Homo sapiens: one gene and its partners. The protein of the gene in region 3 interacts with the protein of the main gene of each other region in a biochemical or structural test. Each region holds a gene or a part of one and is shown on either strand. Other genes may lie near its edges.

Region 1 (8,660 bases), about 10 Mb from region 3:
TGACAGTATATCATTTTTTAAATGTCGCTTATTATACAGATAATGCAATACTGGCAATAAGGAAAAACATTTTTAAATCACCCTGATCCTACTACCCATCAAATCAACTATTTTGAGCTTTTTCTATGTTGCTTGCAGTGCTGATCTGTTTGCATGTATAGTTCTAACTGTGCTTTCTCCCTTATCATACCTTAGGGAGTTTATCCAGCTGCACACTAGTTTTCAGAGTTTTAAATGATTACAGTTGCATGGACATGACTAAGTGGGTAAAATCATGCTTTACTTACCCAGTCCCCTTCTGCTGACTGCTAAACAGCATTTGAATGAATATCCTAATGCATGTAACATTCTTTCCCACTCCCGCCCTTTTTTTTGAGACTGTCTCACTCTGTTGCGCAGGCTGGAGTGCCAGTGGCACGATCTCAGTTCATTGTAACCTTCGCCTCCTGGGCTCAAGCCATCCTCCCACCTCAGCCTCCCAAGTAGCTGGGACTACAGGTGCATACCACCATGCCCAGCTAATTTTTGTATTTTTTTTAGAGATGGGGTTCTGCCATGCTGCCCAGGCTGGTCTTGAACTCCTGAGCTCAAGTGATCCACCTGCCTTGGCCTCCCAGAATGCCAGAATTACAGGTGTGAGCCACCACGCCTGGCCCCTTCTCTTTTTAAAAAACTAGTTTCCTAGGATAAAATACCAGGACTGGGATTATTGGATCAAAGAGTATGGGTGTTTTTTATGGCTCTTGAAACAGGCTGCCAGACTGCTTTCTGAGAAGCCTGTGTTAATTTACGTTGTCACCTATAACGTAAGAGTTCAGGGTTCCATCCTGGGTAATACTGCTATTTTCAGTCTTATTTAATAGGTATAAATTATACACTTTTATATTAAGCCATTAAGAGAAGTAGTGTCACATGGCTTTTAAAGAAAATTGATACTAAAATGTTTAAAATGTTGTTTTTAGAAATATTAAAACACATTTTCACTGGCACTGTTGCTAGAATAACTATTGCAGAGGCCTCATCCCATTTTTCTATATTCTGTTTCAAATGTGCTTCTTAGTAAAATCAAACGTGCTTCTTAGTAAAATCGACAACATTTTATCTAGCTATACAGATAGGAGAAAGGGCTTCTGGATTCTTCTGCCAAGACTTACGGGTCTATGGGCTGGTCCTCTTCTGAAGGGTGTCATGGGAATGAAGGCAGAGTGTCATTCAGCCTGACTCAAGGGGACAGAACAAGGACTGCCATGCGGAAGTCAGGGAAATAGATGCTGAGTCCATTTCCTAACTGACAGGGCTGCCGGGAATGGGAGTATCCAGGGATCAGGAGATAGTGAGCCCTCCGTGGGAAATTTGGGCAGAGCATCAAGGTTATGATAGACAGGATTCCTGTGCCAGGGGTTGGACTGAAATCCTGAGGTTCCCTTTCCTCCATGTCCTGCTTTTCAGGGATAGATGGATGGATGAATAGAGAGAGAGATAGATCAATCAATCGATGGACAGATGAACTGATTGATTTTTCTTCACATGGTTTTTGTTTTGTCCTTGAATAGAGCAGTAGGACTTGGGAACAGAATAGCTCTTGCAGGGTGGTGGGGGCAGAAACTAGAAACTGAGGCAGTTGGGGTATGCGTAGAATCGTGCATGATTTGTGCTCTGATGAGTTTTAGGATTCTTTCAAAACAAAAGAGGAAGGGTTTAAGTTAGACACTAGTAAAAGGAGCTACATTTGTGCCAGGAGGTATTAGGCAGGGAGGGAGAGCAAGCAGTGTCTGTGGAGGGTATGAGTGGAGGTTTGAAGAAGGGCTATGACTGGGAGAGGGTATTTGGGAGTAAGAAGGTGGCCCCTTTCCCCAGAAAGTGTTTCCTGCTGTGGTTTATTTGGACTTTTATTTCTGAGGAGCCACAGCCCCTTCCCCAGATCTAGGACTGAGCCAGGCCCAGCCAGGCCAGCGGCCATCAGAGGCCTGCCTCACATACAGCTCAGGTGGAGCACGGATGGCGTTCTCTTCCTCCTGAGCCCTTGGAATGCCAGAGGCCAGGCCTGGGAGAACCTGGCAACATCCCACCCCACGCCTTTCATCTTTCATTTGAGGAATTAGAGGCCCCGAGTAGGAGAACTGGCCTTGTCAAGAGCAAACAGTTGGTCTGTGGGGCAGTGTCTTCTCAGGGTTTCTGTGGAGTTGGGAGTGACAGGATTTGAGGAAGAAAAGGGAGAGACTTTGGTTTTCAGTTATTTGTGTTTTGTGGCCACAGGCAGCATCCAAGAAGCCTTGCTGAGGGGTTTGGGGGCAGGAAAGCCAGCCCTGGGATCTGGCTGCTGGCTGTGGGGCTGCTTTGAGGGCAGGGAGAGTCGGGGGCTGTGGTCTGGCTGCTGCTGCTCCTGCCTGCTGCCCTCCCCAGCGATGCTGCTTCAGGACTGTCCCCTGCCCCATGGGGCCCTGACCGAGCTGGTCTTCCTTGCAGAGGACGGAGAGGCTGTGAGCAGCTCCTACGAGTCCTACGATGAAGAGGACGGCAGCAAGGGCAAGTCGGCCCCTTACCAGTGGCCCTCGCCGGAGGCCGGCATCGAGCTGATGCGTGACGCCCGCATCTGCGCCTTCCTGTGGCGCAAGAAGTGGCTGGGACAGTGGGCCAAGCAGCTCTGTGTCATCAAGGACAACAGGCTTCTGGTCAGTCTGCCTTACGTCGTCTTGTCCCCCGACTCCTCTCCTTGGGGAAGGGGCAGGGACAGGGAAGGAGGGACAGGATGGTCCCTGACCTCAGAGGTTTCGAGCTTGTTTATGTCAGGAGATTTTAACTTCTCCCTAATCTGAAATTGTATACAGGATTTTGTGTGTATGGATGAATGTACTTTTTCTGAACCAGAAAGGTCTAGTAGTTTCATCAAGTTCTCAAAGGGGGTTGTGACTACCACCGCCTCCCCCATCCCCATCCCATCCTCCTCTTTGTGAGACAGATACATCTTTCTGTCCCCTGGTCCTTTTTCACATCCTGTCCGCTGGAGTCCAGTCAGGCTCCTCCAGCCCAGCCCCAATTCTGGCTACTGTTTTTTGTTGTTGTTTTGTTTTGTTTGTTTGTTGTTGTTTTTGAGACAGAGTCTTGCTCTGTCGCCCAGGCTGCAGTGCAGTGGCGCAATCTTGGCTCACTGCAAGCTCCACCTCCTGGGTTCAAGTGATTCTCCTGCCTCAGCCTCCTGAGTAGCTGGGATTACAGGCGCCCGCCACCACGCCTGGCTAATTTATGTATTTTTAGTAGAGACGGGGTTTCACCATGTTGGTCAGGCTGGTCTCGAACTCCGGACTTTGTGATCTGCCTGCCTCAGCCTCCCAAAGTGCTGGGTTTACAGGCGTGAGCCACTGCGCCCAGCCCTGGCTACTGTTTTTATCTGTGCAGCATGAGAATGCTAGGTATCTTCTCAGAAGCAACAATATTTTGAATTAGTGATTACAAGACCAGACCCAGCAAGGAACCAGACATTACTCTGACAACAGTCCTGTTTCCTGCTATTTTAAATTAAAATTCCCAGTTGCGTGTCCTGATTTGAAATTCCACGGAATTATTATAAACACCTTTTCTTGCCTGGTTACAACAGGCCCTGCTCCGTGCCAATGTTATTTCAAGTAATCCTTTTAAGCAACCCTGTAACCCCATTTTACAAATGGGAAGCCAAGGGATAAAGTATTTTCTCTAGTAGGGGAAGAGTCCTTCCTTTCTTTGTTAATACATCATCTTCCTAACTAGGCAGATAAGAGGCTTAGTTTTTGTGCCTTATGGATCCTTTACTCCAGAAGCCAAGCAAGCAATACAGAGAGGTGGAGAAACAGTGAAAGTCTGTCCACTTTGGAGAACTGAACGGTGAACACAGAGGACGTATTTTAGGCCCTCCAGGCCTGGGGCAAGTTTGAGCCATTTGGATGGCAGCATCCTGGAGCATCCTTGGCTGAGGCCAGTGAGAAGGAGGCTTGAGGGAGAGAGGGACAATCTGATGTGAAGAACAGGAGTTGCTGATATTTGAGGTTAAGGCTCCAGGCCTGCTTCGGGGTGTCCAGCCTCTTAGTCTTGCTGGGTTAAGTCAGGCTCTTGGTGAGTCCTGCAACGTCCAGCGGCCCCTCCTTTGCAGACATCACCTCCGCCCGGCACCCCTGGCAAAGTGGTGTATCTTCTCTCTTTCCTTCCAGTGCTACAAATCCTCCAAGGACCACAGCCCTCAGCTGGACGTGAACCTACTGGGCAGCAGCGTCATTCACAAGGAGAAGCAAGTGCGGAAGAAGGAGCACAAGCTGAAGATCACGCCGATGAATGCCGATGTGATTGTGCTGGGCCTGCAGAGCAAGGACCAGGCTGAGCAGTGGCTCAGGGTGAGGGCGACACCGAGCCACTTGGAGGGGTTCCTAGAGTTGTGGCCCCCAGCTTTTCTAAAGGGATGGATGATAGGGTCAGGGGTAGAGGATTTGTGATCCTTCAAGTTTGCAGGGCTTCCTGTGTTCTAAGTGGTAACGATCTGTCTTCTGCAAATGGGTTACAGCGTGCTGCTGCCAGTTCTGAATCCCCAGTAGCCCGGACTTGGGTGCAGTTGAAATCCATTTCCCTTTTTGCCTTTAGTGAGGCATCCCCCTCCTCCTTATTAAAGAAGAATACATGTCGCTGCCATTTGCCACGTATTTGCCATAGACCCAGGACTATTAGCATCTTTAACCCACGTAACCACACTGGGGATGGCTGGGGAATGTTCATGTCCCCATTTTACAGGAGTGGTGATTAAGGCTCAAAGGATGGAGGTGATGGATCAAAGTCGTCTGCCAAGTGGTGGCAGCATTGGTTCTCAGACCGAGGCCCGTCTACACAGTGCTGTGCCTCCTCCCACCACGAATGCACGTGGCCCACTCTGCCCACGCGTCCCTGGGTGTGATTATGAGGCACTTGGGGAGGGGCTTGCTTGCCTCAGGTGAAAGCTGGGCTTGATGCTTCCAGCGGATGTAAAGTTTGCACCAGGAATGGATCCCCAGTTCCAGAGGGACCTCCAAACCCAGCAGGGACCCTGGTGAGGCCAGTGAGAGCCAGAGCAGCCCTTCCCCTCCTTCCTGCTGCCCCTCCCCTCCTTCCTGCTGCCCCCTCTCCCATCACAACCACTTCAGCCCAGAAGCGTTCTATCCACCCCGCACCCCACCCCACTCCACCTGCCACCCAGCTAAACATAACCACCTTGGCGAGCCTGTCAGAAACAGATCTGGACCGCTGTGGTAAAACAGGACCTCAGTACCCGCCTGAGGCACTGGTCCACCCCTAGGCTGAGTATCCTAGATTTGGAGCAGGCAGGCTGTTTTTGTAAATCCACTAATTGTTTTGGAAATGCCAGGCCTGTCCTAACCAAGCTTCTAGAAGGTGCTGACAGGTATCCCCATCTTTATTGCAAAATCTTCAAGTGGTGAAAGACAGTGGTATGTAGAAAAAGGCCACTGCATAGACAGGTTTGTGGTTTGGCTTCACAGATCTCCATGTAGGGTGGGGTTCCTGAGAGAGCTAACAAGCTCTGAAAGGCCAGCCCTGGGCATTTAAGAGCCAGGGCTCTGAGTTCAAATCCTGGCTTCACCCCTGTTTAGCTGAGTGATTTGGGGCTGGATCCTTTAATGTGCACAAAGTGCTTAGCACTGTGCTTGGTATATACTGAGTGCTCCGTGAAACTTGGATAGTACAGATAAGACCACTGAGGCCCAGAGGGAATGGGGGGCTTGTCCTGGGCTGCAGAGCTGATTAGGACCCAGAGCTCTGGGCTGTTGGTTTCTTACCCCAGTCTCCTGCCTCACCCACTACACACACATACTCATTTGCACACATATATGCACACATGCACATTCATGTATACATTTGTACACACACGGACAAATGCACATGTATGCACATTTGCATACACATTTTTGCTCATGCATGCATTGCGCATGTATATGTACACACACACACACACACACACACACACACACACACACACACACACACTCTGCTCTTGCCCCCAGTTCCCCGCTCTGTTCCTCTGACTGCTCAAATCCACCGATCTTCTCCCTGGCCCCTAGCCTCCCTCCCCAAACTCTCACGCCCTCTTCCTGAGGCCCCTGGCCCCATAGCCTCTGCTGGTGGTTTCAAAGACAAGAACGCTTTCAGCAGGCACAGACTTTCTGTGTCCAGCCTCCACAGAGAGACCCTTCCCCCCAGCTCAGACAAGTGCAGAGGTGGACTTGGCTGGAAATGCCTGCTCTCAGAAGCCGCCCACTCTTGCGCTTTGGCAGTGGGGGCTGGTCCACCTGTCTGATGGGCTCTCCACCTACCTGCATTGGCTTTGTGAAGCCCATCTACCTTCCTTGGACCTCTGTGTCCCAATTCTGCATATCCGCACCCATGCCCAGGGTGAGACAGGTATATGACAGTAAACGGGAGATGCTGACTATGGGACGACGGTCCCAGTAAAGGAAGGCACAAGGCAGGGCTTTTCCCAGGAAGCATGACCCTGCCCCCGCCCCACTCCTGAACTCCTGGCTTAGTGGCACTTTCCCTGGGCAGGGCCATCCGTGTATTTGGCCCAAGCTAATAGGGATGGTAATCCATGTGCCTGCCCTGTGCTGGGTGCTTGACATACAAGCGCTCACAGCTGGCTCGTGGCAAAGGTATTGACCCAGCTTACAGATGCAGTGGCTGAGGCTCAGGCTCAATGTCACACAGGTGCCAACCCTAGTGCCTGTGCTCTTCCTATGACACTGGGTTGCATATTCAGTGTGGACCACAGTCCCGAACTGGAGTTCTTGGGCTCTTCTGATTTGAAACCCATTTCCACAAACTGCTCTAGGCATAGACTGAAAGAGGGGGATCTATGAAATCACTCTAACTAATTCTGCGTTTCCAAAGGGCTTCCAGGTGGGTAGTGTGTTTCTGGTCGCCCTGGGAGTTCCCCCGGCAAGAAGGGAGTGCCCCTGGCTCAGACTGAGGCAATGCTTTCATAGTCAGAGCCACTGCTGACTTTCTGCATCTGCCCCCAGCCCAGGCTCTGTTCCTCTGACTGCCCAAACCCACCTATCCTTTTCCGGACCCAGCCTCCCTTCCCAGAGTCTCACGCCCTCTTCCTGAGACCCCCTGCCCCATAGCCTCTGCTTGGGGTTTCAAAGACAAGAACGCTTTCAGAAGGCACAGCCTTTCTGTGTCCAGCCTTTACAGAGAGACCCTCTTCCTCCACTGGTCAATGAAGCCAGTGAAGAGGCCCCTTCCCAGAGGCGGGCGGGCGGGTGGGTGGCGGCAGGCGAGTCGGGAGAGCCAGAGGGTGGTTGGAACAAGGGAGTTTGCAGGCCTGCTCCTCAGGCAGCGTGGAGACTCCACAGAGAGTTGCATGACCTCTGAAAAGCCAGAGGACTGTCTAGCAAGGCAGTTGTTGATCACGCCTGCAACAGAACAGTAGCCCTGCCTGGAATGGTGGCAGGAAAGGGGCTCGCGGAGCCCTGGGCTGGTGGCTCTGGTCATCTTTGGCCTTTGCTGCCAAGGCCCCCCCTCGCATGCCCATGAACGTGTGGGACCTGCGGAAAGGAGCTAAACAACGAGCCCTCCCCACTGCAGCCTGCCCAGCTGGGTCTGAGGCCACATGCAGGCCTTGGGGCTGGGGTCGGGTGGGTCCTCTTCCTTGGAAATTCATCTTCTCTCTCACCTCCACCCACTCTCCCCTGACCTGCAGGGGCCCTGGCTTCAGCCTGGCTGTGAGTGCTGGCCAGAGGACCTCAGCCTCTGCTGACGGCTTCCCTCTTGCCTCAGGTCATCCAGGAAGTGAGCGGCCTGCCTTCCGAAGGAGCATCTGAAGGAAACCAGTACACCCCGGATGCCCAGCGCTTTAACTGCCAGAAAGTAAGCCTCTGCCCTGCCTGGAGGGAGAGTCCCCTTCCATGTTTTCTCTGTAAAAATTAAAAGTGCAAAATTGGGAGCTTCGTTTTTATATTTCAGTCCAATTAATAAGAAACATACAATGCTTGAGGCCGGGCAGGGTGGGCTCACGCCTGTAAGCCAAGCACTTTGGGAGGCTGAGGCAGGTGGATCACCTGAAGTCAGGGATTTGAGACCAGCCTGGCCAACATGGTGAAACCGTGCCTTTACTAAAAATACAAAAATAGCCAGGCGTGGTGGTGGGCGCCTGTAATCCCAGCTACTCGGGAGCCTGAGGCAGGAGAATCACTTGAACCCAGGAGGCGGAGGTTGCAGTGAGCTGAGATAGCGCCAGTGCACTCCAGCCTGGGTGACAGAGGGAGACTCCATCTCAAAAAAAGAAAAAAGAGAAGAAGAAACATACACTGCTTGGAAAAGAGGAGTAACTCTAGCTTGGCAGGAAAATGGAGGAAACGGATACAGACCTAAAATATTTTCTTGCTTGTAGGTGCCGGGGGTGGGCGAATGGGGAGACAGGGGGAAGCTTTATTGGAACAACAGTCACTTTGGCCTGCATTCTTAAGTAGGGAGATTGATTTTATGAGGCACTTCCTTTCCCCTTATTCCTCAGTAGCGCCTCTGGGCTTGGGGCACTATCTCAAGGCTGATTGCAACCAAAGGGCTGTAGTCCTCATTTGCATGGTGCTTTCGGGGAGCTTTAGGCTTAAAGGTCAAGGCTGAAAAAGTTGAATTAGGTTCTGGCCAAA
Region 2 (5,663 bases), on a different chromosome or scaffold from region 3:
TTCCAAGTCTATTAATGTCATCTCTATGAGGCAGGCTTCTGACCATCCCATTTAAATTTCACCTCCCCTGGACTTCCACATTCCTAGTCACCATATCCTTTTTTGTTCATAAGTGAAAACATTCGAATGTATAATATATTTATTTATTATGCTTACTACTTTTTATTGTCTGCATCTCCTCACTAGATTATAAAACCCCATGATGACATGTACTTTTGCCTGTTTTGTTTATTGCCATATTCCTAATATCAGAATTGTACCTGAAGAATAAATATTTGTTGAATGCTGAATAGTCAGATGGGCCCTTATCAAATGCTTATAACCTAAGGTCACTCAGAACTAATTTAAGTGATGATAAACAGCAAAGGAAATCATAAAGAATCAAATTATGAGGGCTTCAGAATAAGCAACCAACCTCTTAGAAGATACCTAAAAGCCAGTAAACTTTGACAATGCATCCCTCGTAACTTTAGTTAGCATTTACTAAGCACCTACTCTGTGAAAGGCATGTGCTTTACACATATTACCTTTAAACCTCATAATAGCCTCAAACAGTACATCTGTTAACCTCCTTGTATTGATGAGAAACAGATTAAATAACTAACTTCTGCAAAGACATGATTCCAAAGCACCTGCTTGTTCCTATCACATTGATTCTTCCTTTTCTTGATGAGTTACTGAGGTAGAGAAATTAGCTGTTAAGTGGGCTACAGTTTTTCTTGCCTCCAGTAAGAATCAAGAGTCCTAAAATGTTAGAATGGCCATAAACTGCTTTTTTGGAATTGTACTCTGTATTGAAGCCATCCTTCCCTCTGGACACCATGTGCAGCTATCAGCAAAAAGGCAGGCTTAACTATGGACTGTACCAAACAGACTAATCTGCGATGACCTAAGAGGATTAAAATAAGTTAAAAAGTAAATCACTGGGTTAAAGCTCAGAATAAGTGATAATTCAAGAGAAAATTCAGAATCAAGTTTAACAAAAACATTATTGTCCTATAACTATTAAATTTATTACCTAGAATATACTCGATAATTCATGCTTGGACTGCCACATGATATTGGCTAAGTCATCTCATTTCTCTAGGCCTCATCTACCTTAATTTTTAAATCAGGGGATTGGCTCTCTAAGGATTCATCAATTTTTACATCCTATAGTTCACACTGAATGACGGTACATTTGCATCATTCTTTAGTTACAACCCTAAACTCACATTTTCATGCCAAGCCTAGAAAAAGAATTGCTAAAGGTCAGGCTACCTCATTCCAGCAGATCTCAGCAAAAGCTGCCTGTCAGGGAACGTGATATCTCAAAACTTCTTTTATGGAATACAAATGCCTTAGCACTCTGAAACTTCATCCAGGTGACACTCAAGGTCACTTTAAATTACTAGTTTTCATCCCAGAGGCCTCCCACTCACTACAATCAATCAGCAGATTTGACACAGAGGAAATGTGGAACTTCTTTTATCCTTTTATAACTTGATACAGGAAAAAAGTGCCTCCAAAGAAAGACCACAATAAAAATGCAAAATATTTCTATATGGCATATATGAGCTAAATGAGAATCACTAATGATTTCAAAAATACTGCCCTCTAAAATAAATACATGCAAAAATAATACACTTGTGGGCTATGTAAGGCATTTTTCTTTATTATTTTTCAGTTTATCTTAGTAATGCCAGAAAAATAACAGCCGTTATTTTCACTTTAAATGCAAACCAAATACTGCTGCACACAGAGTACAAAGATTACCTATGAACATGGTTAGGTACAAAGGCCATATTAGATGTATAGACCACACTTTGTTCTTACATCAAAGACCGACCGACAGAGCAATTTTTTGACAATTATTTTAGCAAATAACCGTGCTACTAAACAAAGGCAAATACACATATATACACAAACACGTCTCAACTAAAATTATACATGTCACTTTGACAAACAAATTCTCTGGTGGTTTCACCAGATATTTGCACCCCAAAGTTCCCTGCCCAAATCCCGACCCCAAATGCTGACTTGATCTGAAGAAAAAAATTAGAGATGTTCTTAATTAAAGGCACATTTGGCAGCTACTGAAAGTGGCATGCATCTGGCACAGGTGCGCTCTCCCTAAGCCACACCACATGTACCTTCCATCATCTGTTATGCATCTTGTTTCTTTGAGTGGTAGTCCAATGTGACCCACTGTTAGCTAATTTGCTTTATAATTCTGCAGCAATTGGCTACTTAATGCACTATTTTCATTAAAGGCAAAAGGGAAATTTGCTCACAGTCGACAGAAAATGCACTTTACGGTGTCAAAAATGGAAAATAAGGCATGGAATTTACTAAACAAGTTACAAGTGCTTTTGTTGTTTAGATTTATAATATAGACTTCATGCTTCTTAAGTAGAGCTCAAAATATTTCATTGGCTCATGTATAAGGGATTATGAAATAATCTTAAAAGTTAGTAATGAGATGTTTCAAAGAAGAAAAATATTGAATAAAGTCATCATGTTCCCTTATAAATAACTTTACTGCATAATTCTTTCAGCCAAACCAATATTAACCTTGTGATGTTTAGTTACTGGTAAAGATTAATGCAATACAACAGGACCTATACTTGCGTAGTCACACAATATATGTTAAAAGAATAAGTAAACCTATTCACAGCAGCAGAATACCAAGAAATAAATGGTTAAACTGTTTCTTTCTAAATCTGAAGGAACAAAAAGGTTTTCTTCAATATGTACAACACTAATAAATTGGGACACTCCTCCTATTTTGCTGAGTCACTTAAAAATCTGAATTTAAGCTGTCATATTAGAAGACAAACAATGAAATACAAGATTAAGCTAAACTTGAGAATTAAGATCATGACCATAAATACCAACTAATTTTTGGTTTACATAAGGTAATTTTTGATTTATGGAGGGAAAAAAACCTTTAAGAATTTAGAATCATAATATAGCCTCCAGCTGACATAGTAATTGTTCTCTGGGCTGTTGTTGACTGTAGTATTAGTGTGGCATGCTCTTTGTCAAATTCAGATCCATTAAAGCATCCTTGAGTTGTTAGAGAATAGTAACCTACTAAACATAATTTGATGCCCAACAACCTTTAATTAAGCGAACTCTCAATGTATGTTTCCTGATAATGTGTAGTCTTAAAATACATCAGCCTTGAAATATTTTCATTTCTAAAAGAAATGTTCCACATTTTGGAATGTGGTTAACAAAAAGTCATGCTGCATTTACCCCCTTGTAATGTCCAGGATTCAAAAGCAGAATTTTGTAATGATGCATTTATCTCCTCAGCCATTTCTGGTCCCTGATTAAATAGATTTTCATTACTACAAGGATAAATTTGTCAACTAGTTAATGTTTCATATTGAGAAGAAGGCAAGGATGCCATTTTCTCACCTCCACCTAAGGGCATCCAATTGGCATTTTTCTAATCAGTTACCACTGCAGAAAATATTTTTACCTAAATGTAACAGTTCAGAATAAAAATATCCTCCATCCACAATGCATGTAAAACTGTTGCACAGTGAAGTGGTCTCCTAGAACCATGGGGTAGAAGAATAGTTCCCTTTGGGAGAAATAGGATTAGAACTCCAAATCTGAATTTTTCCTCTTTATAGACTAGATAGGTTGAAAAGGGGTTATCACCTTATTGAAGGCTAACACATTAGCCGAAGACATACTGAAGGGGGTCCAATGTGACTTTTACCAGGTTCTCATTTGGAATGTGCCTGGGGCAATTAAAAAGAGAAGTAATCCATGAGACATAAAAAGAGAAATCTTAGGGACAATGAGGCTGGCCCAGTATAAAGTCCAGGGAGATTCTGGACTGTCTATCATGATTAGTTGTAGCGGCTCTAGTAAGTTGGCTCACATAAATACTGTTGAATGGATGGTCTTAGGGACACTTTGCATCCAAGAGGGGATTTGAAATTAATGTTTTAGGACGCTTTTCAAAGAGGAAATATTTTATAAAGAGAAGAATGGCTACCATCATAGGAATGGTACAGATATTGAGAAAGGATTCAATTCTAACAAATAAATAAGAAAATAGGATAGACTGCTTAATGATGGTGCAGTTAACATACCTTCTGGTCTTAAAGGACTACATACTGTACTATCGTGATGTACATTTTATGCTCTAATAAATATCATAGGAAATTATTAAAGTACTAGGTTCCCACCATGTTGCAGCACTTCTAAAAATGTCTCTAATGGTGTGGTTAACAGAATTGCTGAAATGTTGCTTCATTATTCAGAGGATACATGCAGATGCTGATGAACCAGATAAACTCTCTAAGGATGGAATACTGCACATTTCACAGACATTATAGTGGAGATTAATAAAATGTTTTCTCTTCAACAAGGTGCATGCATTTCAGTCACAGTATTTGTTAGACTCAGAAGAACAGTACATACGCTTTATGAATAATCCATATTATGATAGTAATGATGCAGGTAGATGTTCTATTATGAATAGTTTTGATAAAGCAGAAAACCTCAAGCAAGGTAGAATGTTCAATATAAACCTTAACAAACTGTATACTTGTTGCTTAGGAACTTAAAACTTACTTACAAAGTTCTGCTTAAAAGATACCCATCCTATTCTAACCAAGTATCTTCCTATATGCCAAGCTGTGACTTTAGATCATTCTTTAAGATTAATACATATATCCAGAACTAGAAACCAAGGCGTACCACAAAACGTGCTTTTATGTTTAGTGTTTTTGTGTGTTTTTCAACTAAAAGAAATAAGAATCAACCATTTTCTTCATATAATAATTTAATATATGCCAGCCAAACAAAGTATTTGTATCTTTATTCAATTAAATTAAAACAGACCTGCCAGGTATATTATATAACATTCACTATATACATATGATTTAGGCAATGCAAGATAATTCTAGATATGCTGATTACTCAACTATGTGTAAAACATGAGCGGTGTCAGTGATGCCCAGCAAGTGCTCCTTTTCACATTGGGTGCCTGCATTTCCATGGTATGGTTAGAGGGATAGCTACGAGCCATGACATGGACTACCAGTAAACTTCTGTGGGAGAAGGAGGGAAAATGACAATCTAGCATAGATGAACAGTCTCCTAAATGCAAATAGAATAGTTGACAGTTATTTTTTTTTAAAAAGTTCTTCTGTCATGTTAATGACACAAAACTTCTCTTTTTTGAAGGCAACACCACCACATTTTGTTTGGGTGTGTGGGGACAGGTGGGGGGAATGCTCTTAAAATTGGTACAATTATTCCTAAAACAACAACAACAACAAAAAAGTACCTCTTTGGTGAAGCCTCGGTACCCATTCAGTTCACCGTAATAATCTGTAAACAGGCCTGTAGTACAGTGCCGGGCCTTGATTTCAACAAGGTCAGGTACCACAGCCTTTCCTCACAGTCCTTTGAGTGATTTTTAAGAAAATATTCTAAAGTAGAAGAGTAAAGCAAAGGAAAACAAAGGAAGATATTAAGATCCCTGTTTAAGTTTTTTTTTTTAAAAGTGCATAATTTGAATTACAAAAACTGTCATGTGGGCCTGCTGGACACTAGACTGTGTTTTCCATCCCTTTAATGATCACTTCACAAAAGATCACTTCACAAAAAGAGGACTCCTGCCTATTGGCCAGAAAAAGTCCCTTTATGATTTT
Region 3 (9,034 bases):
GAATAGAGAATTGAAAAAAAAAAGACAGGATAAAACCAAAACCAGATTCATATTTTTGGTTATTTGTGGCTTCAGGCTATTTTTAAAGAAACTGCCTTTGAATTCCCCCTGGTATTTTTCTTTTCTATTCTTTTTGTCTTCCAGAGGCCAACTCAGGGTTTGCTGGATTCTGGAAAATCCAGGGGATTTTGAAAAAGAAAATCTGTGGTGGTTTATCACTAAAACAGAACTATACAGGCTGATCTTTTATACCCAGATGATGCTGGCAACCCCCTCCCAGCCAGGAATACACGTCAAGGTGTGTTCAATTGTTGAGATAGACTGTATGAAACCACCCACACTCGTTCCTGAAGGTCTTAAAACACAATGCACTAGTTTGGGGGCCAGATGTCTGGTCAGGGTTAGGGATGCAGCCTGGAGTTATGGAATAATATTGTTTTCCTCTGTGAATCTAATTATGCCCTTGGCCTCTTTGGCTGTGCAAGTTCCCGGATTTCCCTCTGGTATTCCAGGGCGTGACCACTTGCTAAGGCTGGAATTTCAAGTGGTTCTATCAAAACCTGCTGCTGCACACGGACCCTCACCGGAATCCAGGCTAAGACAGGAGAGTGAGACTCTCAAGGGACCGTGTAAAGAAGCATGTTGAGATTTTGCTGATGAACTTACTGTGCTGGGTGTCAGACGGAGGCGGCTTCCACCATCTGGTAGTTTGGCAACAGGAGGGGCCTGTTAGTATGGCTAAAATTCGTGAACAGTGGGGCTGGGTGGTAGGGCAGTTCTGGGGCCATATCCTGGTCCTGTTCCCCAGCAAGGAGAGGAGAAGCCTGACAAGCAATTTACTTCCCTGGGCAGTTGGCCTTGCTGTCTGCTCCACACTCCGGTGGGACCGTCCTCAAGACACTCCCCAAACATAAGTCAATAAATATATCAGGGCTGATTTGAGAGAGAAAGGGAGTGGGGGAGAAGAAAAAGGAGGAGGAGGATGAGAAGAAGCAGAGACAGAAGCATGAGCGCTGGACCGCTTACAGTCTGTAGAAGGGCAGGTTATTCGTCCCAGGCCCTCCTGCCTGTCCCTGTGGCAGGAGGTAAAAGTGCTAAAACCACTTTGGCCAGAAGAGGGCCCCAAATTTCACTCAAATTTACACAACTCGGGGAGAGTCTTGCTAGACCTCAGTTTATGTAAGTTATCCACCACTGTACAGCATGGAAAGGGCCAGAAAGAGCACCAGAGACCCAGACGTGGGAAAGAACTTCAAGGTCACAGGCTGGTTTGTGGTTAAGCCAGGAGTAGAACCCAGGTTGGGTAATTCCTGCTCTGAGACTCCAATTCTTCTTCTTCTTAGGCATTACTTAGCCCCAGCATTATCTACAAATATCTGCTGAGATCCCAGTAATTTAAAAAGACAACCATTTATTGAGGGCCTGGCATGTATAAAGCTCTGCGCTGGGTGGGCAGGTGTGTGTGGCAGGTGACAGAGGTGCTGGATGATGGGGGTGGGGAGGGAAAGGGTGGTGTCCATGTCTAAGTTCATGGTCCTCAAGGCCTTCAAAGGCTTCTTACTGGTTTAGAAGGCACAACCTAAAGCACAGGAAAGTTAAATAACAATAAAAGATATAAATAAGGTTCAATACAGTGAAGGCTGAGCTGTCATAGGGTGATGTATGATTAGTAAACAAATGTATGATTAGCAATTGTCATTCGATTTCTGAAGAGGAAGAGAAGGTTCTCTTGTGCTTTCATATAGCCCACTGTGGTTTCCAGTACTTTCCTGCATGTTGTCTTCTTTGGGGGTGGTCACAAAGACCCTACATGGGAGAGGAGGTAGGGCGGGTTCTGCTTTAGGGGAGCTGATGGAATTTGCACGTACACAGAGGACCATGGAGACACACACGGCCTCTGCTCTAGAGGATTGTACAGTCCTCTTTATTGGGAAGTCCAGGCATCACGAGTTCATATGCTTGTGTGAATGGAGAACTGGAACCAGGGACTCCAGGGTTTGAGTGAATGCAACATTCTAGACCTGCAGGTGTGCTAAGTGTGCCCTTTAAACAAGCTCTTCTTGCCCTAGTATAGGCACATAAATGTGGAGGGGAAAGACAGCGGGCTTTGGACTAACTGGCTATGTGGCATCAAGCAACTTGCTTAGTTTTTCTTGGCCTTGGTTTCTTCCTCTGTAAAATAAGAGAAATAAATAACCTCTCTTGTCCCTTCTAGTTGGAAAGTTCTTTGATTCTAAGCATTCTACAATTACCTGTTTTCGAAAATCAGATTTTCAGGTATCAGTTTGCATCTTTATGTTGGCTTCTCTTTCCCTTACTTATCCTAAACTTAAAAAAAAATTTGCAATTATATTTTGTCATTTTTAACTCACACAATGTCCTTAGGTTGGAGTCATCTCCAGTTCATGGGCGGAGGTGGCAAAATAGGGGTTTCTCTAATCCTTTCTAGCACTAGCTCTTTGAGCAGATGTTTTCAACACAGGCCATCCTATATACCTACTGTGTGCCACGCATAGTTGGGGTATTTAATGAATGATGCACAGTCCTTGTTTCCAAGGAAACTTCCCCCAGTCTCTGTCATTTTTGGGGGATTGCCAGGCACATGTGAGGCATTCAATAAATGTGTATTGAACAGAAAGGAATTCCCAAGGCACTGTGGGAAATAAATCTGCATGAGGTTGAAATGTACCCAGAGAAGAGATAGCCTGCACCATTTCATACTTAAATCCCCTTGGACATACGGCCCCAGTACAGAAAAGACATTTTTCTCCCACAGGTAGAAATAACTTCTGCCCAGATCTTGGCACCATGGGGTTGAGTGGGGAGCACTCAGTTGCTCCCTCCAATAAAGGTAATTACGGAACAAAGGGGGAAGTTGGGAGTATGCTCAAGTCAGGCTTAAAGGCCTGAATTTATAAAATGTCAAGTTGCAGGGAGTCTTTTAGGCAGGAGAAAGGCTACCACTTTGTAGGCCGCTAGGAAGTGGGGAAGAACTGGGCCCTCTCTCCTACAAATTTATTGTGCTTGGTGTGTTCATTGTGGATCTGGGTCCGAAAGAAGGGTAATAAGGAAACCACTAGTGCTGTTTTAGATGAGCTGACTGCTTTGATTCACAAGGGGACCCAAATCAAACTAAACCCCCTCCTCTTCTTCCCCCCACAACAGCTAAACACCAGCTCCCCTCGCTGGTGGCTTCTCAGGTTTTATTAGCACTTCCAGAAGACTTTGCCATCCACAGAAGACGAGTTATCCGAGAGCCATGATGAATCTCTTCCTCACAAACTCACAGGCTGTCTTGATCCATCATCAGAGAGGACCTGGAGCTGGCCAGCACCCTCCCAAGTTCGGGAGCTCAATATGGAGGGCCCGTTCCAGGTCTACCTCTCATCCCTTCAGGGAATAATCCTTGCTCATGGAGGTAGTGCCCTGTCCTCCCATTTTCCCATCAGCTGAGCAACATTACCAGGTGCACCTTCCCCCAGGACTCCTGCTCCAACATTCACAAAGGTTTTCTGTCATCTTCTCTGACCAAGAAGCTCTGGCCTGGTGCCAAGATCTCTCACAGTCTGAGCCCCCTAGGCCCATCCATCTTTTTTTTTCTTTGTCCCGTGCCATCGTTTGGTGTCCTAGCGCCCTTCCCCAGGAAGGTTGGAGGAATAGTGGGTTACTCTGTATGGAGCAAATATGTGAATAAATAAAGCCTTAGATCTGTGCCTGGGTTCTGACAGTCTAGAGAACGCGCAGAAGAAAGTATTAATGCAATTAGGTCACAAAATTATTTGTCCTCTTTTCAGATGTTTCACATTGGTCCACAGTCACAAAGCTTTATTGTGATTGTGTAACAACTGGAGTAGTTGTGAAAACACTACCCTTTAAATGTTTGAAAGCAGAATGGGAAAAAAATGTTGAACTAGAAGGGGGGAAGCTACATTGAATTAAGTAGTAACTGTGCTCCAAGTCCAGGGACCACGGACAAGTGGCTTGGAAAGTGGGTTTTCCAGACTAGAGGGAGGGGTGAGAATGCCAGAGCCTGGGGCTCACGGTGAGCTGGCCTCCAACCGGGTGGGTTTTCCCACCATTGTATGCTCCTTTCCCTGTCGCCAGCTTGGGGAGGGTCCCCAGGGGAGCCCTGGGCTTAAGGCAGTGGTGTTATGCAGAGTCTGTAACGTTGTCATTGGTAAATGATGCACAGGGTAGTTACACAAGCCCAGATCGATGGACGACTCAGGCAACGAATCGATCACTTTTCCGGGGAGAATTCACCCTTTATGACCTGCAGAGGGTCAGGTGGTTCGTCCAAAGAGGCTCTGGCTTGAAGGATTTAAAGCTGGCCTTTTCCCCATTCCCATCTCCTCCTCGGGGGCCTGGGCAGTAACAGCCGGGTAATAAACTACTTCTCATTAAAGAGATCTGGGGGTGGAAGTTGTAGGGGGACATAAAAGTGGGGACAAAAAGGCACAAATCCGCTCCGAGGCGGAAAGCCAGGATGGGGGCGCGCGGGGCTCACTTTCCCCGCTCCCTCTCCCCCCGAAGCCACCCTGAGTTTTTGTGCCTAGCGAACTAGCCCGGTGCTGCGCCAGGCCGCTGGCTGCGCGCTGGGCTCGGGTGGGGGCTCGTCGGCCCGCCCCTGCCACTGGGGCCGGGCTGCAGCCCCCTCCCCGTCGCCCCGAGCCCCTCCCCCGGCCCGGAGCCCCTCCCCGCGCGCTTCCCCTCTCTCCCCTCCCTCCCTTCCCTTCCCTGCCTGCCAGGCCCTGCCTCCGCCTCCTGCGCCCACAGCCTCCGCCAGCGCCGATCCCCCCGGAGCCCGAGCCGGAGAGCGGCGAAGGGGAGCCGCCGGCCCCTCCCCAGGACGCTGACAGCAGGCTCCGGGGCCCCCGCCCCGTCCCCTCGCCGACGGGACACACCCCCGCCCCTCCTCTGCTCCGCCAGTTCCCGCCGGACCCACCGGGCGGCGGAGAGAGCGAGCGGGCGAGCGCAGCGCGGCGGCCGCGCGGGAGTGAAGGGGCGCGCGGCAGGCCGGCGGGGAGTCCCCCGGGGCGCACGGAGCCCGCGCGCCCTCCGGGACCCTCCCCCGTCCCTGGGCCGGACCTGTGGGCGCCGGGAGTCCGGGCAGCGTTCGGCGCGCCGGGCCGGGGTGGCGGGCGGCCCCGGGACCCCGGCAGCTGGAGAAGGAGCCGGAGCCCGGCCGGGATGAGAAGGTGACGCCGCCGGGGGCGCCACTCGCTTTGTGGGGGAAGATGCTCGCCTACTGCGTGCAGGATGCCACCGTGGTGGACGTGGAGAAGCGGAGGAACCCCTCCAAGCACTACGTGAGTACAGCCCCCGCCGACCCTGCTGGGGGTGGCCCGAGGTCCCGGGAGGGCCCCGGATGGCCCCTTGCCCCTCCCAGCTGTGAGGTCGCGAAGCTAAGCGCCCACTGGGCAGCCAGCAGCCGTGGAGTTTCTTCGCAGGGCTGTGATCTCCAGGGAAGCCTCTTCTGTCCTTCCTCCTTCGCACCCCCGCCCCCCCGGTTTCTTTTTTTGGCATTGGAATTGGCAAGTGGCTGCCCTTGTCTGTTACAACGGTGAAGTCATCTGTCCGCCTTTGATGGATGGTGGGGGGAGCTTTCGTCAACCCCTCACAGAGCAGCCCCGTCGGGAAAGCGCATCTCCTCGGCCCTCCCCAGGGGCCCTGGGCGCTCACGCTCACACAGCCCGAGATGCTTTCAGAGCTCGCCCTGGAGAAGGAAGCCTCGCGCCCTGCCTCCCACGCCAGCTCTGTCTCTGCCTTCCTAGGCCTGGGGCTGGGGGCAGAAGGAAGCCGCCGCCCCCTTGCCCAACCTCCACCCTCCGCGCTAAGCTTTGATTTCCCTCATAAAGCCATTGTGTCCGTCGGTGTGAGGAGAATTGTGGCTTTTCCTTTTATCCCTCCTCTGGACGTGACCCTTAACCGGGTTCATTTCCTCTTAAGTGATGCTCCATCTCCAGACACGAGGAGGCGAATGTTTGCTGTGGTCTCCGAGGAACCGCCCCTCCCCCTTCCTCCCCCAAACTTTAATGAGAAGGGGTTAAGGTTGACTGGGGCAGCTCCAGAGCCTATGTGACAGTTCCCCTTTCATCTCAGCCGGTCCTGTCTTCCCATCCCTCACACCTTAGGAAGTAAACACGGTGTCCTTGACCCCTCTGAGCGTCTGTGCTCCTGTACTTGAGATAGAAGAGACCCAAGCACAGAGGACTGCATGTTATTTGCAAATTGGGTATTTAGAGGAGCAGTTCCAGTGCTCAAAGCATTAATCTTAACAGTTAAAACAGGCGCTGGTTGCTGCCCTGGATTGTACATTGATCTCTGAAGTGCCTTTTCTTCCACTGTTGCAAAGGGACTGGGGTTTGTGGCAATGTCAGCCTCGGGCTACTCTTTTTGCCTTTGTCACCAGTGTAGCTCTGAACTTTGAGTTTCTTTACAGCTGAGCAAATGCGGCTGGGCTCATATGGGGAGGAGGTAAATGTGGAGGCAGGTTGACTAGGCAGGGAGGTGGGTGCCTGTCGGGTCCAGTCCCTGACACCCTTAGAGAGTTGTTTCTTTTGTGTCATCTGGTCCAGCAAGCATTTTCTGCTGCTGTTACAAGAAAGCTCTTTTTGGAGGGCTTGGGTCACCAGGTGGTCAACCTGCTCTGTGGACAGATGTCCCTTTGTATATCCCAGGGTTTATTTTTCTCAAATGTTGCAGGCTAAGTTTTAAGGGTTCTCATTTGTAGTCCTCAGCTGAGCTTGGCACTGCATTCAACAGATGGCACTCTGCTCTGAGACCCAGGCAGGTGCGTTTCCAACTCTGGATTTTAAATGAAACATCACATTTCAGCTCCCACCGATGGTGCCCAAGGTTGCAGATGCAGGACACACTGGTAACAAACTAGAACCGGGGCCCACTGCAGACAGGATTGAAAGGCAAGATTGCGTGCTGGGGTTCTGAAGTTAGACGGTCTTGCTCAAAGCCTGGCATGCAGCCAGTAACTAGCTGTGCCACCTTGGCAAGTTATTTAAACCTCCCCCAGCCTCAGTTTACTCAATTTCAAGTAAGGATAATAATAGTATGTACTTGTTGGGAGAATTAAATGAGATCATCTATGTAAAGCACTTAGCCCAGTTCCTGGCACGCAGTAAGCTCTTATTAAATGGTAGCTTATTATTGGTGAGATTCTGACTAAGAAAGTATTTTTGAAAAGCAGCTATTAATGGTCTGGCAAAAAGGAAGAAAGATTTTGGGTTTTAAGATTGATAATAACTTGTTCTATGTGAAAAACACAAAAGAAGTCCTGTCCAGTTCCCTCGAAATGATCATTTCCTTCCTTTTTACAGACAAAGTGTTTCCCGGGACATCTCCGCTTCCCGAGTAAGAATCGATGACATTATGTTTGGGGGGGCAGGGAGTGATGTCACTGAACAGATGGGGCCATGCAGAGTTCTGAACTAGAGTTCTGGAAAACACTGAGAGGAGAAAGTGTTACATGTTGTGGAATTGTGGAACGGGCAGAGACCCGAAGACTCATCTGGCTCAACTCCTTCATTTTACAGATGAGGAAATGGAGAGCCAGATTGGGTAAAGTAACTTGCAACACAGCTGCTCACAGCTGGGTTTTTTTCATTGCATGTACCCTAAGTCCAGTTGGGTTTGGCTAAGAGGACAAATAACTGGTGGTCAAAAAGTTTCTACCCATTTGGGGCATTGTATATATTAATACATAACATAAGCATATCCAATAATTGAAAGGGGGAAAGAAAGCAATAGAAAGGGCCTGGTGGGACAGACAGGGGCAGGAGGAGCGGGTTTGGGGAGGCTGCAGCCTCTTCCTCTCCTGGCCCTTGCACGGTGAATACCACACACCAAAAGCTCAAGTGTTGTGAGTAAGGCCCTCTGGTGTGGTCAGCTGGCAGGACGTGCTGCACCCATTGCCTGTGTTCTGGAAACCCTCTACACTGGAGGAGCAAGCCTCCTTCCAGCCTTTCCTCTGCTGATGGTGAATTCTGAGTCTGTGGTTTGGTAAATTGCAGAGCAGAGAGGTTTTACGGGATGTGCGTGTTAGCCAGAGCTAGCCGATGAGAGGCCTGGGGCCCACGCAGGAGGAGCTCTGCTGGCTCCAGAGTGCTGGGAACACACTGCAAAGGTTCTCTCAGGACATTCTGCAAAGGGTTTGCTCATCCCCACGGGGAGGGGGAGCTGCCTGAACACGAAGGGTCCTGTGCTTTCGGTCAGTTCATGAAGGCACGCAAGTAGCTTCCATCATGGGGATGGCACTCAGCCCTGGCTTCCTTCTTCTCTGCCAGGCCCCTGCTTGGGGTGGGGTTGAGAAGGGCAGGCAGCTGCTACTAAGGTCAGGCTCCCTGGCATGAAGCTAGGCTCCTTTCCTGGCTTTCTGAGCTGTGCCTGGGGAGACCCTAGGTAAACTGGCTTTGGCCTCTGACCGCTTGTCTTGAAAATGGTCCTGATGATGCTGGATGCAGAATGCAGATTCCTTCGTTTGAAAGTTTTTCAGTAAAGATTTGAATTCAGGTCCACCGGGTTCTTTGTGCTCACAGGCAGGTATAGGTATATATCAATTCATGTGGTAGAGAAAAGCTCGTTTATCTAAAACAAACAAGAAATTGTATCTATTTGGATTTGGGAGGTATTGCACTTTCACAGTTGTTTTATTTCCTGATTGTTTATTTCAGACAAATACCAATCATGAATGTTCTGATCCTCTGCAGGACTCTTTGGGGAATGCAAATAATAGCCAGTTTAGCAGTTACCATCGATGGTGAAACATACTTAACACTCGTGTTTTCGTGTGATTCCTGCAGGTCATTGAATGTACCCTAATGTGGGGTAGGTTTTTGGATTCTGTTTTACAGATGAATTAACTGCAACTTGGAGCAATTCACCAACTTGCTTAGGGTCTCGCAGCTGGCACAGGGCAGAGCTAGGGCAATGCAGGTCAGGTTAGCTCCAAAGGAGGATGTGGATATAAGGTGGGGCCCTTCTCTTCAATTAGAATCCGGGCAGGAAGGCCAGGCTCAGC

What was found.
Region 1: the proteins of SH3PXD2A (region 3) and AFAP1L2 form a complex in vitro, tested with the Homo sapiens proteins (one study listed by BioGRID).
Region 2: the proteins of SH3PXD2A (region 3) and SOS1 interact in a biophysical measurement, tested with the Homo sapiens proteins (one study listed by IntAct).

The regions. Positions count from the first base shown.
Region 1 is NC_000010.11:114,309,572-114,318,231, reverse strand, and holds part of AFAP1L2 (actin filament-associated protein 1-like 2), read left to right. Parts: intron 1-2,466; coding exon 2,467-2,672; intron 2,673-4,181; coding exon 4,182-4,361; intron 4,362-7,788; coding exon 7,789-7,878; intron 7,879-8,660. UniProt on the Homo sapiens protein: May play a role in a signaling cascade by enhancing the kinase activity of SRC. Contributes to SRC-regulated transcription activation.
Region 2 is NC_000002.12:38,979,923-38,985,585, forward strand, and holds the end of SOS1 (son of sevenless homolog 1), read right to left. Parts: 3' UTR 5,442-5,663; coding exon of another isoform or gene 5,388-5,441; 3' UTR 1,627-5,387; downstream 1-1,626.
Region 3 is NC_000010.11:103,851,470-103,860,503, reverse strand, and holds the start of SH3PXD2A (SH3 and PX domain-containing protein 2A), read left to right. Parts: upstream 1-4,927; 5' UTR 4,928-5,237; coding exon 5,238-5,309; intron 5,310-9,034. UniProt on the Homo sapiens protein: Adapter protein involved in invadopodia and podosome formation, extracellular matrix degradation and invasiveness of some cancer cells. Binds matrix metalloproteinases (ADAMs), NADPH oxidases (NOXs) and phosphoinositides.